2 separate regions of the Homo sapiens genome follow, and region 2 is linked to region 1. The links come from fine-mapping of genetic effects on gene expression. A gene starts in region 1. The other region holds a variant in brackets. All regions are shown on one strand. Distances are between the middles of the regions.

Region 1 (2,903 bases):
AAAAATATAAAGCATTCAAGCTCACCCCAACCACTTAACTTCATTACTCTGTGATTTTTTTTTTTGAGACAGAGTTTCGCCCTTTCGCCCAGGCTGGAGTGTCCTGGCGCGATCTCGGCTCACTGCAACCCCCCGCGGGGTTCAAGCTATTCTCCTGCCTCAGCCTCCCGAGTAGCTGGGATTACAGGTGTGAGCCACCACACCCGGCTACTTTTTGTATTTTTAGTGGAGACGGGGCTTTCACCATGTTGGCCATGCTGGTCTCGAACTCCTGGCCTCAGGTGATCTGCCCGTCTCGGCCTCCCAAAGTGCTAGGATTACAGGCGTGAACCACCACGCCTGGCCCTTTGTGATCTTTTTGAAGTGGTCTTTGCCTCTTTCTTGAAGATGCCCATAATAATGACTAGAAGGGCTATTCTATGTCTGGTTCTCAGCAAGATGGTGATGAAGTCATTGAAAAAATATGCTGACCTGCGTCTCTAATTTCATAAATACTTAAATTTCACATAAACACTGAAAAGGCTCCTTGGACTCAATAAGCCATGATAAGTAATGTAAGTTTGCTTTTAGCCAAGTGGGCCCAAGAAGGCACCCATCCACCTTTCTACGTTTCATAGTGCATCCCTTCCCAAATTCAAATTGTCCTATCCCAGTTCCTGCAACAAGCCAGGTACTCTGGCCTCCCAGTCTTTGCTCACAGAAACACCCTCCCCACCTCCTGGTTATATCCGCTCCTCCGGGATCCAGCTGAAAGGCCACCTTGGCGACCACTCCTGAAAGCCTTCCTCCATACTCTGGCAGAATGAATGACCTTAGTATTGGCCTCTAACGCGTCTGTCTTGTGCTCGGGCTGTCGCCTTCCAGCCAATCCATCTTAAGGTCCACCCTTCCTGGAGACTGAGGCCTCTTCCTCTCGGATTGCCCAGTGCCTTGCACGTAGTAGGTGCTTAGTAAACGCTGGCACTGGGTTTGGTCACTTTGTTCCCTTAATGCCAGGGCAGGTAGTAGAGCAAACGGCCCCAGCTGTCTTCCTCCCTGCCCGCCCGCAGGCAAAGCCCCCAGGAGACGCCGGACGAGCCGCGTGCCTTTCCCACCGCCTCCGCGGCGCGCGCAGCCCAGTCACGGGCGCTGGAAATTCCGGCGCGTGCGGGTGCGCTGGGCAGGGCGGGGGCGGGAGAACCCGTGGAGTGAGCCTGTGACGTGAGGGGGCGTGGCACCGCGAAGCCCCGCCCCCTCTTCCTCGCCCTCTCTCGCGGGTCGGGGTTACATGGCGGCGACTGCGGCAAAGCGAGAGCCTCGGAGACGCCGCTGCCGCCAGCACAGCCGGAGACCTGAGCCGACACTGGGGGCAGTCCGCGAGCCCCGCACTCTCTCGATGAGTCGGAGAAGTCCCGTGAGTGTGTGTGTGTACGTGTGCGGGGTGCGCCGGCGGGGCGGCTCGGGAGGGCGCCGCGGCGGGCCCGGCGGCGGCGGCGGCGGCGGCGACGGCGGAGCCGGCTCCCTCCTCCATTGTGTGTGACCCTCCGGCGGCTGCCGCTCAACAAAGGCGTTTTTGTTCGGTCTGCCGCCCGCCCCCTGCTCGCCCGCCTGCCCGCCCGCTCGGGCCTGGCCGGCGCGTCCCCGCGCGGGCGGGCGGGCGGCGGGCTGGGGTCCCCGCGTGGGGCCGGCCAGGCGGCCAGCGCGCCCCTCCCACCCGGCACGCCCCTCGCCGGTCGCCCTGCCAGGCCGCGCCCGCTCCCTGGCCCCGCACGCCTGCTGCCGTCCCGCCGCCTGCGCCTGGCTCCGCGGGTTCGAAACCCAGCCGGACCGGACCGGAGGGCGGGCGAGCGAGGGGCGGCGGCCCGGGGAACATGAGGTGGCGTGGAGTCTCGCCTTACTGGCACGCTGCCTTTCGAAATGCTCCCGCGTCTCCTCCCCCATCCCACCCGGTGACTCGGCCTCAGCTGACTCCGGCCGGGCAAAGTCTCCAGTGGCGTAGCGCGCAGCGCTCACCCGGCTCGTCTCAGAGCCCTGAAGTCCGCCCAAGTTTTGAGTCTTGCCATGAATGAGGTACTGAAAACTCGGAGACGAAATTCCTAATTTCCTCCCTCGGCCCTACAGTCTTTCCTTAGCTTCTTTCGGGACCTTAAGTGGTGGTCTGTAAAAGTGCCCAAATGAAAGCTTGTTTTGTCGGTTCACCAAAAAGGGCCTTGTCACTTTGCTGTGCATTTTAGTCCGCCTTGTGAGTTGTGTCGAAAAGTAAAGGTGTTTTGGCATCCTTTTGTTTCTTGGCGAGTGTAGGACCCAACCGGTTTAGGTGTTAGGGGGATCTCTGTGCAGCGGGAGCTTCTTGATTCCTTTCCTGTTTTATTTTTTCTTTTGCTTGTTCATTGGAAAAGGTCCAGTGAAAGGGACTGGTGAGTTGGAATTAGAAGCCTACTTGTATTAACGGCAGAATTCGTGTTCATTGCTAAAGATGCAGTCTCAGTAATGACTTTTTTTTTTTTAACGGATACAGATGATTTGTCAAGGGGAAAAATTAACACGCCATACAATGAAGAGCAAGCAGCTTCAGAGTAATTTTCTGATGGCTGATTCTTCTAGCCTGTCTCTTACAGTTCCAATTGCACATGTCCTCCCTCTTTAACGCTGGAAAACTGAGATGGAAAGAATGATCTGACCAGAAGAATGTAGGGTCCAAACAGGGCCTGGCCCTGAAATCAGGAATTTCTTCATAGAAATATCAGATTTTAATGTTTAAAAAATAATTTTGAATTGGGTGAAAGGAACTTTGTCTTTAGATAGTAGTTGTTCAAACATGTTTATGAAGTGTTTGCTATGTGCCAGGGATTGTAAAGTCATTTCACATATGTTACATCATTTATTAAGAATTGCCTTAAGCTTGTAAAATTATTCATTGATGT
Region 2 (2,903 bases), 21 kb after region 1:
GATGGTGGGTACTTTAGCAGCTTGGCTGACAGCTACGTTGAACTTGTGGCATGAGCAAGACTTAGATTTTTGGGGGCCATCTATTATCCTGACTGCTTTGAAAATTTATATTTTCATCTAGTTAGAATCCTCAGGTGTCCAAAGGTGCTTGAAGAAAGAGGCTGTGCACATGTCTCCTGTCCTATATTTGCTCCAATATTTCTTTAATGTTAGTTAGGTTAGGAATCTTAGAATAAAGCCTCCTGCCGGGAGGAAGATAAGAAATGGGATCAAGCGTTATTATAATTATTTAAAAATTTCCAGCCGTAAGTTTGTAGAAGGGATTATATTTGTTTAGTATACAGCAATTTGAATAACATCTCTCCCATTCTGAGCATACCACCACAGGGCTTGGGAATAAAACTAAAGAAATATAAGACTTGTAAATCATAGACTTAGAATTGGAAGAGTCTATAGGGATGTTATTACTAGTTTATCTGGTCTATGAATTTTTGAATTTCTAATATGAATGGGTTACAGTAAATCTGTAACTAGGAGATGGAGTCTCCCTCTGTCCCTCAGGCTGAAGTGCAGTGGCACGATCTTGGCTCACTGCAACCTCCACCTCCCAGGTTCAAGCGATTCTCCTGCCTCAGCTCCTGAGTAGCTGATTACAGCAGTGCACCACCATGCCAAGCTAATTTTTGTATTTTTAGTAGAGATGGAGTTTGACCATGTTGGTCAGGCTGGTCGCAGGTGATCCACCCGCCTTGGCCTCCCAAAGTGCATGAGCCACCACGCCTGGCTGTAACTAGACTTACTAGTTGTAATCTGGTTACAGATTTACTGTAAGTCATCCATACTGGAAAATAACAACTAGAGATAAGCAACAAAATAAACATAATGGCATGTGCTTTACAATGGCTTTTTAAATGGCCAAAGGCAAATGAAAGCCCCTAATGTTAAAATGCATGTAGGCAAGGGCTTAAACAATTTAAGAACACAAATTGGTAGTAGTAGGTGAGTGTTTTGTCTTTTTTTTTTTTTTTTTTTTTTTGAAGACAGGGTCTCACTCTGTTGCCCAAGCTGGAGTGCAGTGGTGTGATCTCAGCTCACTGCAGCGTCCGCCTCCCAGGTTCAAGCGATTCTCCAACCTCAGCCTCCTGAGTAGCTGGGATTACAGGTGTGAGCCACGACACCTGGCTAGTTTTTGTATTGTTAGTAGAGACAGGGGTTTTACCATGTTGGCCAGGCTGGTCTCCAACTCCTGGCCTCAGGTGTTCTGCCCACCTTGGACTCCCAAAGTGCTAGGATTACAAGTGTGAGCCACCACGCCCAGCCTGTTTTGTCTTTAAATTGGATACTTTGTTACTGTCTTCTCTGACTTTGAAAGTTTGTCTCTGTAGATAAGCATAGTTACTGATACTACCCAAAGCCTTTCAGACTTTGGCATTTTAGATTTAAGGTCCCATGTCTTTTCCCAGGTTCCTAAGATTATTTGTTGTTAATAGTTTATACTCCCAGCCTCCTTGATGTCCAAATCCTGAAAGGGCCCCTGATAACTCTTATGGCCGCCCACCATACATTAGGAGCAAGGGCTTTGTCAA[A/G]AATGCAGTGAGCAAGCAGCTAAGCTGTAGCACTTGGCCTTCTCTGCCCGAAAATCTTAGTAGCTTTGATGAGAGCTTGAGACATGATCTCAGGGAAGGGTGAATTTGCTACAGCTACATTTATCTGTGCCAGGGTTAGGAGATAGCCCTAGGTGAATATAAGAAAAGCTCAACCTTTCCCTTCTGTCCAAAAGCAACTGGGTTTTGGCTGAGGAGATGTGAGGCTGGCTAGGTTCCTGTTAACTCAAATTACTCACTTGACTATGGAGAAGAGCAAAATAAGAGCCTTTGTGGAGAGGGGATGGGGGAAGTGCTGTGCTGTCAGTGAATGTGAACAGGCCAGATGACCCATGTCAGCATTTATCCTGAGAAGCAGCAGAGCAGAAGGTTGAGGAGAAAACCAGAAAAAGTAACCTTTATGTTTATGGCCCTTACTTCAAACTTTCTTTGCACATCTAGACTTCCTTTTTGACATAAGTAGGCCAAGTTGCTCCTTGATAAGAAAAAAAGAAAATTCTGGCGAGATAGGACAAAGTAAAGTTACTTCTTTTGTTTGCATTTCATTACTTTATACACTTAGGCTTGACTCCCAGTACCAGCATTACTCTTGGTGTGGGGGTAGACCAGCTGACAGGGAGCAGGAGGTAATGTAGCAAAGAGAGCAGTGCTTGAGCAGACAGTTGTGGCTAATGCAGTTTCAGGGAACTGCCTTATAAACTTAGGAAGCTGGTATCCAGCCTGCATTATAAAGAGCTTTTAATTCCATGACATGGTAGATCACTGAAAGAAAGCCAAAGAAAAAGCAAAAAGCCAACTTTTATTCTTATAAATTATTCTCTTTACTTCATTTTATTCACCAAATTTTTAAAAACAAAACAATATCGAACCAGCTAATTAAACTTAATGATCACTCCCCAAACAACCCAGAATCAGCAATGGTTGGTAGGAATGGGTAACATTTATTTGGAAGCAGAGAAATTGGAAAGATGCTGGAAAGGGTCCCTTTATGTTACCTTCCTTTTTACTGCCTTGTTGAAGTGTGTAGAACGTGTAAAAAGAATATGGAGCCCCAGTTTTTTCCTGGGTCTAAGCTTTAAACTTTGTTTTTTTGTTTTTTTGTTTTTTTGTTTTGAGATGGAATTTTGCTCTTGTTGCTCAGGCTAGAGTGCAATGGCGCGATCTCGGCTCACAGCGACCTCCACCTCCTGGGTTCAAGCCATTCTCCTGCCTCAGCCTCTGGAGTAGCTGGGATTACAGACATGCGCCACCACGCCCAGCTAATTTTGTATTTTTAGTAGAGATGGGGTTTCTCCACGT

Evidence for each region. PIP is the estimated chance that this variant, and not a neighbour inherited with it, causes the effect.
Region 2: its variant is the best candidate, but not a certain one, in a credible set for the expression of MAPK6 in whole blood (TOPMed, PIP 0.83).

Annotation. Positions count from the first base shown.
Region 1 is chr15:52,017,984-52,020,886 of GRCh38, forward strand. MAPK6 (mitogen-activated protein kinase 6) reads left to right here and starts at 1,236. Exons shown (of 6, transcript NM_002748.4): 1 at 1,236-1,393. MAPK6-DT (MAPK6 divergent transcript) reads right to left here and starts at 1,112. Exons shown (of 2, transcript NR_156732.1): 1 at 716-1,112. RefSeq lists enhancers at 837-906, 2,247-2,296 and silencers at 1,077-1,186, 1,487-1,996.
Region 2 is chr15:52,038,497-52,041,399 of GRCh38, forward strand. The region is part of intron 1 of MAPK6 (mitogen-activated protein kinase 6); the gene reads left to right. Among named protein-coding and RNA genes, the nearest start is that of MAPK6, 21 kb to the left of the region's middle. The variant A/G (reference allele first, on the strand shown) is at 1,587.